Regions from separate parts of the Homo sapiens genome. Here region 2 is linked to region 1. The links come from fine-mapping of genetic effects on gene expression. Tissue or cell type: whole blood. Region 1 holds a variant in brackets; the other region holds the start of a gene. All regions are shown on one strand. Distances are from middle to middle.

The links. PIP is the estimated chance that this variant, and not a neighbour inherited with it, causes the effect.
Region 2: CEP131 starts here. The variant in region 1 is fine-mapped to the expression of CEP131 in whole blood (TOPMed, PIP above 0.99). The same link has a PIP of 0.9 or more in aorta, blood mononuclear cells, esophagus muscle, lung, sigmoid colon and subcutaneous fat.

The regions. Positions count from the first base shown.
Region 1 is chr17:81,193,011-81,201,010 of GRCh38, forward strand. CEP131 (centrosomal protein 131) reads right to left here. Exons shown (of 26, transcript NM_014984.4): 8 at 7,319-7,436; 9 at 6,709-6,825; 10 at 6,371-6,539; 11 at 5,867-5,961; 12 at 5,105-5,287; 13 at 4,702-4,878; 14 at 3,920-4,045; 15 at 3,691-3,816; 16 at 2,825-2,941; 17 at 1,860-1,962; 18 at 916-1,117. Among named protein-coding and RNA genes, the nearest start is that of CEP131, 26 kb to the right of the region's middle. RefSeq lists an enhancer at 1-626. The variant G/T (reference allele first, on the strand shown) is at 4,182.
Region 2 is chr17:81,219,584-81,227,583 of GRCh38, forward strand. It overlaps CEP131 (centrosomal protein 131), which reads right to left and starts at 3,382. Exons shown (of 26, transcript NM_014984.4): 1 at 3,186-3,382; 2 at 297-490. The coding sequence starts at 473. RefSeq lists enhancers at 1,743-2,413, 2,414-3,083, 3,084-3,753 and silencers at 3,115-3,444, 3,605-3,974.

The DNA of each region.
Region 1 (8,000 bases):
GGGGCAGGCAAGGCCACGAGGAACTTGCCCATCAGCCAAGCGCAGCAATTCCCTGAGCTCCAGGCCCTCGTGGCACTTTGGGAAGTGGCTGTGGAGCCGCGTCCAGGCCCCCTTTTCCCTCAGCCCGTGTGCCGGCCTCACCCTGTTCAGCATTGCCCCACGGGCATGGAGGGCGGGAGGCAGGTGCCTCGTGGGGCCTTATCCACCTCCCCTGCCTCCGGCCTGAGGGTGCCAGGTGCCTGGCTCCGTGACCTGAGCAAGCTCGCGCCAGGGCCTCGTCCTGACCCCACCTTCGAGGAGAGACTGGGGGACCAGCCAAGCTGCATCTGGGGAGGACCAGCCACGACAGGCAACAGGGTGGATAGGAGAGGGTGGCTTCCAGGCTGTCCTGGTGGCGCAGACAGTGCAGGAGGGGCTGCCACTGCCCCCTGTGGCCCGCAGATCCTGACCACCACTGGGCACGTCCCCAGCCCCCAGGGCTCAGGACGCAAGAGCAGCAGTCACCCCTCAGACCCCAGGCCAAGGGAGTGAATGAGAGAGACCGTCCCTGGGCCCCAAGGTCAGAGCTGGAGGGGCCTCGAGGCCGCCTATCCACGGGTTGCTGCTCTGGGGCCAGTTGTGAAAGAGTGGATGTCTGGTGGGGGTTCCCAGCCCTGACCCTGGGAAAACACCCGTGCACCCATGCAGAACCTGCAGACCTCGGCGGGCATGAACTGCAGACACAAGCCCGAGGACACTGGCCCGGCTGAGGCTGGGCCCCCAAGGGCCACTCCAGGGCCAAGGGCCCTGCGTCCTCCCTGCATGCTGCACTAAGACCCTCGCCCACCTCTACATGGGAACTCCACTCCAGCCTTCGAGGATTCCGACTCCCCGCCCTGAGGGTCCTGGCCCCACCGGCCTGGGGCCACCACCCACCGCTGCCGAGCACGTTCGCGCTCCTGCTGGCCCAGCGCCTCCTTCTCCCGCTCCAGCTGCTCCCGCAGCTCCTCGGCCTGGCGCAGGCAGCGCTGCGAGGCCCGCTCATCCGACTGCAGCAGCTCCGCCTCGTGCAGGCTCTTGAGCCTCCGCACTTCCTGCTTGTGCCTTGCAATCAGCTTCTGGATCTCGGGCTCCAGACCTGGGGGCGGGGCACCAGCTAGGGCCACGTCCAGCTAGGGTGGGCCCGGGAAGTCCAACCCTGGCACAAGACCAGCCTGTCTCAGGCCCAGAGGGGACCCCGCCCACCCAGGGCCTCCTTGGATCCAACCCGAAGCACAGCTGAGTCTTGACGCCCACGAGGTGGGGAAGAGACCCCCACAGGGCCACGGCGCCTCTCCCAGCCTGTGGGGCTCAGGGCTCCTGACACTCCTGGTGCTACCACTGACGGCTCCCAGGCACCCTGGCAGGTGTCCAGAGCGAGAGGACCAGGCCTCGGGGAGCCCTGCACATCACCCAAGGGTCCGAGGCCCCTTCAGACCACAACACCCACCAGCCTCCTGCCCCATCCGCCTGCCTGCCCCTGCCTCCTCCTGTGGCTCACTCTGCTTCCCGTGGCAGGGCCCACGTGCCACAGTCGTCCACAAACTCCCAATCTCCCCTAGCCCAACCCTGAGGAAGTGAGGCACTGAGCCCCCTCGTTTCAGGCAACTGCCTAGATGCTGGGGGCTGGGCCAGGCTCCTGTGTGGAGCCCACCTGCCCCCCGGGTCACGGCAGAAGCCGCAGCGGAGGCCGTGACGGGGGTGGTTGGGGCATGAGTGTTCACCTCTGCCCAGGAAGGTCTCGGACTACATGAATGCCTGAAGTTATGGCTCTCTCAAAAGAAGCCCTGGCCGCAGCACCCACCCCACACCTGGCCGGCTCATGGGAGGGGAGGGCCCACCTCGGACAGTGACCTCCTTGATCTTCTTGGTTTTCTCACTGATCCACTTCTCCCGGCGGGCTTTCTCGGTGGCGCTCATTAATTCTTTGAGTTTTTTAATCTCCTACGAGCAGAACAGGGCAGGAGGAAACGACACGAAGGACACCCCCGTCCCTTTGCCACCCTGTGGGCACAGTCAGGGCCGGGCTTCCAGGTCCACCAGCACAAGGCCGGCACTCATGGTTGGGTGTGCTGCCCCGAGACAGAGCCACTGCTGCCCTCCCCAGCGCCCGGGGCCAGGCTGGAGGCCCAGGCCCACCCTGCCACACACCTTGGTGGCCTGAGACATGGGAGGGCAGCCATCAGCCTGCAGAGGCCTTGCCCCAGAGAGGGGTGCTGCTGCCTGTCGGGACGGCCCCAGAGCCTGCATTCTTCCATGGGACTGGCAGTCCTCAACCCCGGCTGTCAGCCACAGTCACGTGCAGGGATTTTAAAATGCCAGTGCCAAGCCCCACTCCAGAACCTGGGCTCGGGACCATCACTGCCCAAGCTGGTGGGAAGCATAGCCAGGGAGGCTGAGGCCCCCAGGGAGCTCACACAGCGGGAAGGGGCGGGGAGTCAATGCTCCACCGACACCTGGTCAGTAGAGAGAGCAGGTCCCATGGCCCAAGGACCTGGCAGTGGGGCAGACCAGGCAGAGGCTCCTGGGTCCACGGCTACCGTGCTGTGGCCGGGCAGGGACTGTGCGTCCACATCTGTGACAGCAGGCCCACGGCCCCGCCCCAGAGCCTGGCAGCTAGAGAGGCAGGAGTGGACCAGCTCGGTGCCACGGTGCTCCCCCAGACAGCCCCACCCACCGCTGTGGCCCTGACACACCGAGACAGGAATGAGGACTCCAAGTCCGGTCCTGTTCTGGGGGCTGTGCCAGCTGAGCCTGGCCTGTGAGCCGGGCTTGGGACGCCGTGCAGTAGGGAGCAAAGCCTCACCAGCTCGTGCTGCGCCTGTGCCTGGGCCACACGCTCGGTGCATCTCTGGTCCTCCTGCTTCAGCTCGGCCACCACAGCCTCGCACTTTTCACTCAGGACCTTCTTGTCCTCAATCAGCTGTGTTGGGGACCGGAGGTGAGGTGCTACACCAAGGCCCCAGCCCAGCAGGACCCCTGATGGAGGAGACCCTCCCAGCCTCCGAGGGAGGCTAACAGCAGCCCTCCCCTGGGGCTGCCCCTCCTAGGTTTGTGGATGGACCCTGGGGCCAGTGGGGGGGCACGTGTGCAAACACGGGCCCAGGCCTGCATCCGCCGTCCTGTCCTCAGCTGGGGGACCCGGCGAATGTCAGAGAAGCCCCAGCCCACCCCCTGCAGTGATGTCAGGGTCTTCCTGGGATGAGGGTAGCTCTGCCGAGGCCATCACCCAGCCCTGGAGGAGGCTCACTGTCTGCCAAAGGGTGTCAGGACCACACCAGCCTCACTGCCGGCCCCAGGCCAGACCCCAGGTCAGGACACACCTGTGACAACTATCAAGCAGCCCTGGAGGCCCCTATTCTCACACACCCCAGACCAACTCTAGGTCTCTTCTCTTCAGAACAGGAGCCAACCGGGGCTGCGACTGAGCTGAGGGGCCGGCAGGACACCCCACTACACTCACACGGGGCGGCTCTGGATAAAGACAGGAGTGCCCTCTCCAGGGCATGCATGGCTGGGAATGGCATGGGAAAGGCTTGGAATGCGTCCAGCGGACACCCGTGTGACACCCAACAGAGGAAGAAGCTCCCTGGCAGTGGGAAGCCCCTGGCTCTGGAAGTCTCCATGAGCCACGCGCTGGGTCCGGGCCTCTGCGCTCCCCGGGCCGCTCACCTGGTCAATGAAGGCCAAGTGCCGCTGGATGGTGGCCTCGTAGTGCTCCCTCTGCCGCTGCAGCTGCCGGCTCAGCGCCTTCTCTGTCTCCTTGACCCGCCGGGCCGTGAGGTCTCGCTGCTGCGCCTGCAGGGTGTGGGCAGAGGAGGGAAGCGCTAGGACCGGTGGGCCTGGCCTCAGCAGGTAGGAGGCTAGCAGGGCCCGGGATTAGCAGTGCCAGCAGCGTTACCAGCGCTCTCTGCAGCAGCAGCATGGCCTGCTTCTTCTCCTCCACCTCCAGCTTCAGCCGCATCACAGACGTGCTCACCTCGGACCCCAGCTCCAGGGGCCCCGGCCCCGCCTCCGGCACCCACCCCTGCAGACACAGCCGAGCGTCAGGCGGAAGCGGCAGAGGACGGGGGGCAGCCAAGGACCTGACACGATGCCCCTGCGGCCCTGCCCTCTGGGGACAGAGGGGCTGCTGCACACGGGAGCCCGTGGGAAGCCGGAGG[G/T]CAGGTGGCAGGCGGCCCAGCAGAGGTCGTTTTCATTGCTCAGTACAGGAAATGGGGGCCGTGGCCTCAGGAATAAAAAACAAACCATTTAAAAAGTTCTATGCTGCCCAGCTTCCTGCCCTGTGACAATAAAGTTCACGTCACTGCTCCATTTAGCCTGGCCGCTAGTGTTCACCCAGGACAAACCAACCCAGAGGACAGCAGGGCTCCAGAGGGCTGAACTATCCACACATATGGGCTCGTGGAGGCAGCTCGGGGCAGCGGGTAGGTGGGGGCAGTATGGGGAATGCGGGCCCTGCCACCTCCACCCTGAGAGACCCGTGGGGGGTGCTGCATAACTAGGTGGGTACATGGTGAGGGACCACCTCCTGCTGGGGGCCGGGTGGGGGCTGGCGAGAGACCTCCTCCCCCTGGGGGCCAGGTGCGGGCTGGTGAGGGGCCTCCTCCCCCGAGGGCCAGGTGCAGGCTCGTGAGGGGCCTCCTCCCACTGGGGGCCGGGTGCGGGCTGGTGAGGGGCCACCTCCTGCTGGGAGTCCAGCTGGTCCTGCCCAGACTTCTCCATCTCGTCCAAGAAGCTCATGATGCTTTGTAGCTTGGCCTCCGATAGCAGCGTCCCATCCTCAGGAGGTTCGGGGAACGCACTGAGTTTTCCAAATTTCTCCAAGTTGTCAGCTGTCAGAGAGCTGGCGTCATCCTCCTGTGGGACAGGAGCCCAGCATCGGGGGCTGTCAGGGCAGCCTGAGGACTTGGGTTCCCCAAAGGCAGAGGTGGCAGCTGAGGCTGGGCTCTGGGAGGGAGGGTTGTGACTAAAGCCAGGAGGAGCCTGTGGCATCCCCATTTTCCCAACCCCCACAGCCACCGCATGCTCTGTGTGAATGGCGTGGGTGGACAGACTGTGCAGGGCGGGCGCACACCGTGGTCACCTCGCTGGCCCAGGCGTATCTGCCCCTGTGATGGGTCCTGGGGCGGGGCAGCACGTCCGGCTCCTTCTCCAGCAGCTGCAGTGTGTGCAGCAGCTCCTCCAGTGGCCCCCTGGACTTGGCGCTCCCCCTGCTCGGGGCCATCATCTCCAGGTTGTCCCCAGCTGCATCCTGGGCAAGAACGTCCTGCAAAAGAGCAGGGAGACAGATGCAGCAAGGCTGCTGGTAGCTGAGAGCAGCCCCCACATAGGAGGCCAACCGCAGAGCCCCAAAGGCGCCGCGGGAGCTCCCCAGTCCCGACATTCAGCCCCAGGAAGGTGAGGCCAGGGCTCAGACCTTCCCACCCGGTCTCTGCAGCTGCTCAAACCCAGAGCAGCTCCAGCCACCAGGGGACTCCTCCCAGTGCCCCACTCCAGGAAAACAGGAGTGCAGCCACCTGGCCCCACCATTGAGCAGCCTGGGAGCCTTGGCTGTCAGGTCACCCCTCAGAGCCGGAAGCTCCTCTTTTGTGGATGAGGATGCAAGGCCCCCCACCCCAGGACATCTGCAAAAACCCAACTGGATCCACCCCAGCAAAGGCTCCCCAAGAGGCAGCCAGCACCATGCATCAGAGCAAGAAGACACCTCCTGGGTGGCCTCTCTGAGCTTAAGTGGCCCCTAGAGCAGAGGAGGGGCTGGGAGAAGCTCAGCTCAGGACACCCCTGGCACAGACATGGCCCTTAAAGCCAAAAACCATGATGGAGTGAAGGACAGCTGTGCTCAGACCTGCGTCCTGTCCTCTGGAGGCTGCTGTGGTTCTGGGGATGAGTCGGAGGTGGGCAGGCAGCGGTCTCCGGGGCCTGCAGCAGGGAGGCCACCACCTGCACAGCAGAACACAGCACCATTCCACAGGGAGCATCCCGGGGCGGGCAGCAACTCTGGAGGCACCCCCGGGAAGGAGCCAGGCATGGGGGAGGCGGAGGCGACCCCAGAAGCAGAGGAGCCGCTGGGGAGCCACGGCCTTCTGGGTGTGGAGCTGTGGAGGATGAGTGCCACCCCTCCCTTCCGGGCCTTCTACTCTGTAGGGATCCCTACGTCCAGGACCATTTGATTGTCAAGGTCTCGGCACCCTCGTCAGGTCAGCTGGGGGCCAAGGCCCCTAACTCCGAGGACTGGGGCCGCCAACATGGGCAGCAGCACAGGAGGCCGAGAGGAGGTCCACAAGGGCTGCACTTCCTTCCTGGCTGCAGTCCACCCCCCAGAGCAGGGCGGGCGTGGAGCCACTCTCACCAGTATTGTTGGCCTTGAGGGCCTGGTGGGCAGTGCCGCCTGGTGTGGGGGACAGCTCCTGAGCAGGCTGCCGCATTCCTGGCACTCTGGTCTCCCTGGGATTCTCAGGTGGCCCACGCTCGGCAGTGCTCGCCTTCTGGGCTCTCAGGGCTCGTTTCTGTTGCAGCTCCTGCAGTGGGAGCATCGCTGAGCACTGTCCCTGGGAGAGGACGACCCCAGGCTCCACAGCCAAGCTGCCCTGAGGCTAAGTGTCCCGGGGCCCAGGGAGCCCCAGCAGCAGCCCCGCACGGTCAGGCCTGGGCCACGGTGCTGCTCAGTGGTCCCTGCGCGGTCAGCACCTGAATGGCTGCTCGCCTGGCTTGGCGTGCCTTCTCCTCCCGGGCCTTCCTCCTGGCTGCCTCTTTCTGCTGGTGCAGGTCCAAGAGGGTCCCCTCGCCTGACCGCTGCCGCTGCTCCTGCCAAAGAAGCCGGTGCCATGTGGCGTTTACATCTGGAAGACGGAATCCAGACCCAGACCAGAGGTTTCCCCACAACGCCCTGGAGTCCCCTAGAGTTCGTGGAATCTCAGGGCCAGCAGGGAAAGTGAAACCCCACCAGGACCTTGAACCTGCCATTTCTCTGCTCTACAGAGGATGAGCCCTACGTCGCAGGTGGCCAACAGTTCTGGCGTGGGGGAGACAGCTCTGCCCCCACAGAACGTCCTCCTGAGACTCTCCAGCCTGGGATGGACCCAGCAGGCGTTTCCTGACACCCAGGCCCTGAGGACCGCCAGTGAGGACCACCCTGACTGTCCGCGGGGACCCAGGGTCAAGAAGGATGCTGCACCCAGAGACGGGGCCCACGAGCAATCCTAGGCTTTGATTCCACCTGTCCCAGAAACTCAAACCCCTGGGATTCTGGGCCAGACCCCCCGGGGGAGCATGGAGTGACTGAGACGCCCACACTGACCTCCCGCTTGGCCTGAAGCAAGTGCTCCAGGCGGGCAGCTCCTGCTCCGCGCCGCTGCACCTGGTGCCGGTACCAGCGCTGGATGGTGACAGTGGCCTGGTTCACCTGGTGGATAAACCTGCCCGGAGAGCAGGACTCAGGGCCAAGACAGGACCAGCGCCCCGGCAGGACCCAGCTGGCTGCTGGTGGAAGGTCGAGCCGGGGAAGAGAGAAGCCGGCGGCTGCACTCAAGTAGCCCTTTTCACAAGGCAGGACCAGCCCACCTGGACCATTTTCACATGGCAGGACCAGCCGCCTGGACCAGCTCCACTAAAACCCAAAACCTTCTTCCTGGGAAGGTGCCCAGGGGAGAGGAAACGCCTACCCACGCAGGCCTGTGTGGCCTTATTTACAATTGCCAGGAAGTGGGAAGAGTTCAAATGCCCATGACCTGGCTACAGCGTGAATACTGGATGGCGGGACCCTACCCACAGGCAACAGGCCCGGGACTCAGGCCAGTGCAGACCACAGGCCGTGGCTCCACAGAGAGGGTGGTCGGAACAGGCAGGGCTATGAGGGAACAGACTGGTGGCTGCTGGCATCTGGGCGGGGAAGGAGCTCGAGGGAAGCCTGGTGGTGCTGGGCCGTTTCCTTATCTTGGTCTGCTGTGTCCACAGACAGCACTATACACCCTGGTGGAATC
Region 2 (8,000 bases), 27 kb after region 1:
CACCGAGCCCAGCCAACCCCATTTCCTGAGGATTCAAACAAATCCAAAGGGCGGTGGCACAGGAGGCCTGGGGCTGTTGCTGAAAGAATCCAAGCTCTGGCTTGACTTTCTAGTGATTCAGCACCCACGCCTGTAAGACTCAAGTCCTACCTGCCTCCTGGAACAGCCACGAGGATCCAGCATGTCCAGATGTGAGGCACTTGTTCACCTGTGGAGCTGGACCCAGGGGTCAGATGCCAACTGAACAACAGCCCTCCAGGAGGCAGGGGCCCGGACTCCTAGGCCACAGTACTCACCAGCACCTTCCTCTTCTGCTCGCTGCCTGTGACCACGGAGACAGAGCGGACGATGGGCTTGGTGGTGGCGGCACTGCCAGGACGCCGGGACACAGGCGGAGGGAGACCTGTCAGACTCAGGTCCACACCTGCTGGGCTGCGCTCCGGGACGCTGCCGATGGCCCGGGTGCCTTTCATGGTGGACAAGGCAGGTCCTGAGCGGGGAAGCAAGAGCTGCAATGAGATGCCGTGGGGGAACTACAGTCCCCTGCACCCACCATCTCCAGCCCAGCCTCAGCTGGGTCCACTGGCCACCAAACTTCCTGGGAAGGCCTGTCACAACCTATGCACCCCTCTGGCTGGTGGCAGGCTCCTCGACAGGAACATGAGGGAGCTGTTCTGAGCCCAATGTCAGTGTATGCCAGGGCAGGAGGGCCCTGGATGATGGACAGGTGGGTGGCGAGGGCAAGGCCCGTGGGTGGGAATAAGCCAGCAGCACCCCAGAGGGAGCCTGGGCCACAGGCCATTGTCGATGTGAGCCAGGTTCTGCCATCTACCCCACACCGTGATTCTGAGAAAGTCACTGCCCCGAGCCCCACTGTTTTCTTCTGTAAAAGGGACATTTGATTTATTTTTTATTTTATTATGTTTTTGAAACAGAGTCTCGTTCTTGTCACCCAGGCTGGAGTGCAGTGGCGCGATCTCGGCTCATTGCCACCTCTGCCTCCCGGGTTCAAGCGATTCTCCTGCCTCAGCCTCCTGAGTAGCTGGGATTACAGGTGCCCGCCACCACGCCTGGCTAATTTTTGTATTTTTAGTAGAAGTAGAAACGGGGTTTTGCCATGTTGGCCAGGCTGGTCTCGAACTCCTGACCTCAGGTGATTCGCCTGCCTCGGCCTCCCAAAGTGCTGGGATTACAGGCATGAGCCACCGTACCCGGCCCCTAAGTAAAAATACACATTTTAAAAAGGGGTTGCGTGTTGGCCGGGCACAGTGGCTCACTCCTGTAATCCCAGCACTTTGGGAGACCAAGGCAGGCAGATTGCCTGAGCTCAGGAGTTCAAGACCAGCCTAAGCAACACAGTGAAACCCCACCTCTACTAAAAACTTCAAAAAATTAGCCGGGCGTGGTGGCGAGCGCCTGTAATCCCAACTACTTGGGAGGCTGAAGCAGGGGAATTACTTGAACCTGGTAGGCGGAGTTTACAGTGAGCCAAGATCGTGACACTGCACTCCAGCCTGGGCAACATAGCGAGACTCCATCTCAAAAAAAAAAAAAAAAAAAAAACGCGGGAGTGGTTTTGTGAGGTCCAGACAAGATGCTGGTCTCAAGGCCTCAAGGCTGCACCGGGCAAACACTCCCTGGGTAATGTGTTATTCCAGCAGGGGACGGGGGTTCTGACGATCGATCGAGGGGATTAGCTTGGGGATGCTGGCTTCCTTACTTTGGAACTTCTCAGAGCAAACCCTGCCGGCCCCCAGCCCGTCCCCACATGGCACCTCTTTCTGAACGAGTCTTTCTGATCTTTCTGAACGGGTCTCAGCTCGTGCATGTGCCCCTGCCAAAAACCCTGCAACAGCTTCCTAGGCACAGAGAATAAAGTCTACACATCCAACTCCTGCAAGATCTGGCCCTGTACTCTCTGTGACCTCGCCAGCTCCCCTGCTGTGCCCCTTTGTTGTGGCTTTAGCCAACACAGCCTCCCTGGTTCTCCTCAAACTCAGCCAGCTTGGCCCCGGCCAGTCCCCTGCCTCTAGGTCTCAGGACACTCCCTCCCTGCACTCAGAGGCCTTCCTTGAGCACCCATCACTCTTCACTCCCCATCCGGCTCGGACTCCCTTCCTGTGGCCGCACACAGTTGGTTTATGAATTGTGTGGCTCCTGAGCAACCCCAGCACCTGCAGGGAAAGGCACTCAGCTGAACCCGTAGATGAACGGGAGAAGCTGGCGCCAGGGACCAACCTCGAGAATTACCTCCCTGCCACGGTGGCCTCCAGTAGGCCAGCAGGCACCCAGCCTATCGCCCAAGGTCACCCTGGGCTTCCTTCAGCCCGGCACCCCACAGCAGGTCCCCCAAGGTCCCTTCCACGGAGCGATGGATACCCCTACTCCCTAGAGGCTGACCCTGCCACTGACCAGGTCCCAGTCCTCAGTTATGCACTTCCGGCTGTGCGGAAGAAACTTAACACCCTCCTCCTGCAGGGCACTGTCCACCCCTGGCTGGACCCATGCAAGCCCTTGGAGCCCAGGACTCTGCTCTCCCAGCCACACTTGCAAGCGGCTCTGGGATGGCGAACGGGGCCTCTCCATGGAAACCTCCAAGCCAGAAGAAGGGAGGCCTGGGAGGCCACTACATCTTGGATAAAACTGTGTCCCTCCCAGGACCTGAAGGGGCGGGGACTGATGACCAGCGCCAGGACCTGGTTCCCAGGGTGGGCTGACCCTGACCCTGACCCTGACCCTGGACAGAGAGGCCAGAGCCCACGCGCAGAGCAGAGCCCTCCACTTGTCCTCAGGGCAGCTCCCATCTCCCCATTTTCCCCAGGGCTTAAGGCAGCCGGGCCAGAGATGCCGGGACTGGACTCCATGTTGTCCTGGGGACCGGAGGGGAGTGGAGGGAGGTGGAGAGGGTGGAGGGGATGGAGGTGGGGACCCACACCCTCAGGCACGAGCCTGTCTTCACCTGCGCGGGCCCCGGACCTCCCTCACCTGTGCGCACCCTGGATCCCCCTCACTTCCCCCGGATCCCGCCTTCAATTGCGCGGGCACCAGATCCCCCCACTCACCTGTGCGTGCCCCGGATCCCCATCACTTCATCACTGGACCAGGGCCTCCCACCTGCGCGGGCTCCGGACCCCTCCAACCTCCGTGCGCCCTGCAACCCCCTCCCTTGCCCGGGCCCCCCTCACCTGCGCGGGCCGGGGGCGCAGCCGCGAAGCCTGCCTGGCGCGCGGGGCCTGCAGATTCGGCCGGCGGGGAGGGGATGCGGAACCAGTCGCGCCCAAACCTCGGGTCGGCGACCTGGCGCCCCGCCACCCCCAACACTGCCCCGAGGCCCGGTGACAATGAAGCGGCCGGACGGCCGGGGTGAGCAGCGGCGGCAGCTAGCAACCAGCCTGGCACCACCTCCCCAGCCCGTCACGCCGGCCCGCCTTTCCTGCGCGCGCCGACTCCGGATTGGCCCTTCACGCTCCCGCTCAGGCCGTCCCGGGAGCTCATTGGGCCGCTCGGCTGTCCTTCGGGAAGTTCAAGCGTGGGAGGAGCGGCGGATGGCTGAGGGACGCGACTACAGAGAGCGGCCGATTGGACGCGGCTGGAAAGGGGCGGGTCATATAGGGGGCGGGGGACCGAGGGCGGCGGGAGGAGCTGGCCGGGCAGGGGCGGGGCCCCAGCGGTTGTGGGCGGGGCGTGAGGTGGGGGTGTGATGGGCGAGTAGGGCGAGGCAGATGTGGGCGGGGCAAGGCAGGTGTGGGCGGGGCACGCAGGGCCTGGGGAGGAGACACCAGGGAGGGCGCGAGGAGCACGCGGCCTCGGCTCGGCTCCCCGACACCCCCAGGCCGCCGCACTCCCGCGGCCCGGGGCTCCCCCAGTGTCCTAGGCCGCTCTGTCCCCACCCACGTGCGCGACTCCCCTCGTTACTCAGTACGACTGCGAGGGCGTGTGGGCGCCTTGCTAACCTCCCTGACCTCCTTCCCTTCGCGCTGCTTTGTTGTTTTTTTTCCTTCTCCAAAGTTTTAACGCTGCGCCCCGTGCGTAGCCGCTCTGTGACTCCCCCTCTCTCCGGGAGCCCTGGGGATTCCGCCCAGGTCCTCTCCAGGGAAGCCATCCTTCCCCTAAAAGTCACAGCACACTGGTCTCCCCTGCCCCCGCTTTTTAAAAAGTCCAGTGCTCTGTAAAATAAAAAGTTTGGTTTCAGTAAAATCCACATTTTTTGGTGTGCAGTGGAGTTGTGTAACTTTAGTTACAGAACATTCTCCCTCCGGATCCCGTACCTGCTGACTGCTGGTGGCGGCTGCTCAGTTCTCTCTGTTCTCCATCCCTAGAGGCAGCCTTTTCCAGAATGTCACACAAAAGGGATGTCGCGCAGCGCGCCTGTGGGTCTGGCTTCTACCACTTCGCATTTTGAGATTCATGCTGGTTCCTCTTTATTGCTGAGTGGTATCCTGTAACCGGTGTGAACCACCGGTTCAGATGGTTTTATTTATTGATGGTTTTATTCATCAAATGAAGGACGCAGAGATTGTTCCTGGTGCTTGGCAATTATGAATGACGCTGCCATAAACATTCACTCATCGGCTTCTGTGTGGACACAACTTTTCATTTCTCTTGTGTAAATACCCAGGAGTGGGGTTGCTGGATCAAATGATTGTTTATAAGAAACTGCCGGCCGGGCGCAGTGGGTCCCACCTGTAATTCCAGAACTTTGGGACACTGAGGTGGGCGGATCACCTGAGGTCAGGAGTTCGAGATCACCCTGGCCAACATGGCAAAACCCCGTCTCTAGTAAAAATACAAAAAAATTACCCGTGCCTGGTGGCGTCTGCCTATAATCCCAGCTACTCAGGAGGCTGAGTCAGGAGAATCGCTTGACCCCAGGAGGCAGAGATTGCGGTGAGCGGAGATCACCACTGCACTCCAGCCTGAGCGACAGAGCAAGACTCCATCTCAAAAAAAAGAAAAAGAAAAAAAAAAGGAAACCGCCAAGCTATTTTCTTTTTCTTTTTTTTCCTTTTTTTTCCGAGATGGAGTCTCCCTCTGTCGCCCAGGCTGGAGTGCAATGGCATGATCTTGGCTCACTGCAAACTCCACTTCCTGGGCTCAAGCAATTCTCCTGCCTCAGCCTCCCGAGTAGCTGGTATTACAGGCACATGTCACCATGCCAGGCTAATTTTTGTATTTTTAGTAGAGACAGGGTTTTGTCATATTGGCCAGGCTGGTCTTGAACTGCTGACTTCAGGTGATCCACCCACCTCGGTCTCCCAAAGTGCTGGGATTACAGGCGTGGGCCACCACATCGGCCTACTAAGCTATTTTCCAAAGAAGTTGTACAGCTCTACGCTCCCACCAGTGCCACAGGTGTTGCAGTTGCTCCCCATCCTCCTCAGCTCTTGGTATTGTCAGGGATTGGTTTTATTTGTTTACTTATTTATTTATTTATTTATTATTATTTTTTTGAAACAGAGTCTCGCATTTTTGCCCAGGCTGGAGCATAGTGGCGCGATCTCAGCTCACTGCAAGCTCCGCCTCCCGGGTTCACGCCATTCTTCTGCCTCAGCCTCCCGAGTAGCTGGGACTACAGGTGCCCGCCACCACGCCTGGCTAATTTTTTTGTATTTTCAGTAGAGACGGGGTTTCACCGTGTTAGCCAGGATGGTCTCGATCTCCTGACCTCGTGATCCGCCCGCCTTGGCCTCCCAAAGTGCTGGGATTACAGGCGTGAGCCACCGCGCCCGGCCTACCACATTGTCTTGATTAGTGTTTTTGTTGTTGTTGTTGTTGCAGAGATGGGGTCTCACATGTTGCCCAGGCTAGTCTCAAATTCCTAGGCTCAAGCAATTCTCCCACCTTCACCTCCCAAAGTGCTGGGATTACAGGCATGAGCCACTGCACCTGGCCTAGAGTCAATCCTGAAATCAGGTTTTGAGTCCTTTGTTCTTCTTTCTCCAAATTACCTAGGCTATCCAAATTCTTTTGACTTTTCCTATAAATTTGAGTTTCAGCTTGTCACTATCTTAAAAAATATCCAGCTGTGATTTTGATGGGGATTACATTAAATCTGTAGACCTGTAACCTGGAAGAATTGACACCAGAATTTATGAACATGGTATATCTCTCCACTTATTTAGATCTTCATTGATTTCTTTCATCAGTACTTTGAAGTTTTCAGCATACACATCCTACATATATCTTTCTAATTTATACCTAATCATTTCATTTTTGGAGTGCCATTACAGATGGTAGTTTTTTATGGTTTAATTTCCAATTGTTTATTGCTATTACAAAAGTGTAACTGATGTTAGTATATTTACCCTGGAGCCTGTGTCTTTGCTAAACTCACTTCTTAGTCTTAGGAAGTTTTTGGTAGATTTCACGGGATTTTCTACAATCCTGTTTTCTGTGAATAGTATGTTTTATTTCTTCCTTTCTAATGTGTCTGGCTTTCTAGTTTTTTCTTGCTTTATCGAACTGGCCAGGGCTTCAGTGTAATGCTGAACAGAAATGGTTAGCATGCACACCATGGCCTTCTTTCCAATCATAGGGGAAAAGCATTCAGTCCTTCAGCATTAAGTATGATGTCAGCTGAGGGGTTTTTGCAGAAACCCCTTGCCACCCAAAAGATCTCTTACATTTCTAATTTGTCAAATTTGGGAGGGTTTTTGGGTCATGAGTGAATGTTGAATTTGTTTCTTGTTTTTTCTGCATAAAATGATCATGTGATTTTTCTTTACTGTTAATATGATGGATTGAATTACACTGATTTTCATAGGTTGAAACAGCCTTGCATTCCTGGGATATATTCCACTTATAGTGATGTATTACACTTTTTATATATTACTGGATTCATTTTGTTGTTTTCTTGAGGAATTTTGCATCTATATTCCAGAAGGATATTGATCTCTAGTTTTCTAGACCAAGTGTACATGGAACATCCACCAAGATAAACTATATTCTTGGCCATAAAACAAACTTTAACAAAAGTTTGAAATCCTTAACAAAAGTGTGAGGCCAGGCACAGCAGCTCATGCCTGTCATCCTAATACTTTGGGAGATTGAGGTGGGAGAATTGCATGAGGCCAGGAGTTGGAGACCAGCGTGGGCAACATAGCAAGAGCTCCATCTCTACCAAAGAAAAAAAAGGCCATGTGTGGTGACTGAGGCATGAGGATTGCTTAGGACTGCTTGAACTCAGGAGGTTGAGACTGCAGTGAGCTGTGATTGCACCACTGCACTAGGTGACAGAGCTAGAGTGCAGTGGCACAATCATGGCTCACTGCAGCCTTGACCTCTGGAGTTCAAGCAATCCTCCCGCCTCAGCCACCTGGGTAGCTGCGACCATGCCTGGCTAATTTAAATTTTTTTTTTTTTTTTTTTTGTAGAAACGGGGTCTTGCTATGTTGCCTAGGCTTGAAATCTTTAAACAATATAACAGAAATCATATAAAATATGTTCTCTGACTATATCAGAATTAAATCATAACACAATATGCTTTAAAATAACCCATTGGACAAAACGGAAGTCTCAAGATAAATTTGAAAATATTTTGAGCTGAATAACAATTTAAATGTACCAAAATTCATAGGATGCAGCCAAAGCAGTGTTCACAGGAATGTTTATAGCATTACAAGGCTCACATTAGAAAATAAAGGACATGATAAATAATCTAAGCTTCCACCTTAAGAAACTGAAAAAGGCTGGGCGCTGTGGCTCATGTTTGTAATCCCAGTGCTTTGGGAGGCCGAGGAGGGTGGATCACAAGGTCAGGAGATCGAGACCATCCTGGCTAACATGGTGAAACCCAATCTCTACCAAAATACAAAACATTAGCCGGGCATGGTGGCATGAGCCTGTAATCAATCCCAGCTACTCGGGAGGCTGAGGCAGGGGAATCGCTTGAACCCGGGAGGCAGAGGTTGCACTGAGCCCAGATTGCGCCACTGCACTCCAGCCTGGGTGACAGAGTGAGACTCTGTCTCAAAAAAAAAAAAAAAAAAAAAAAAAGAAAC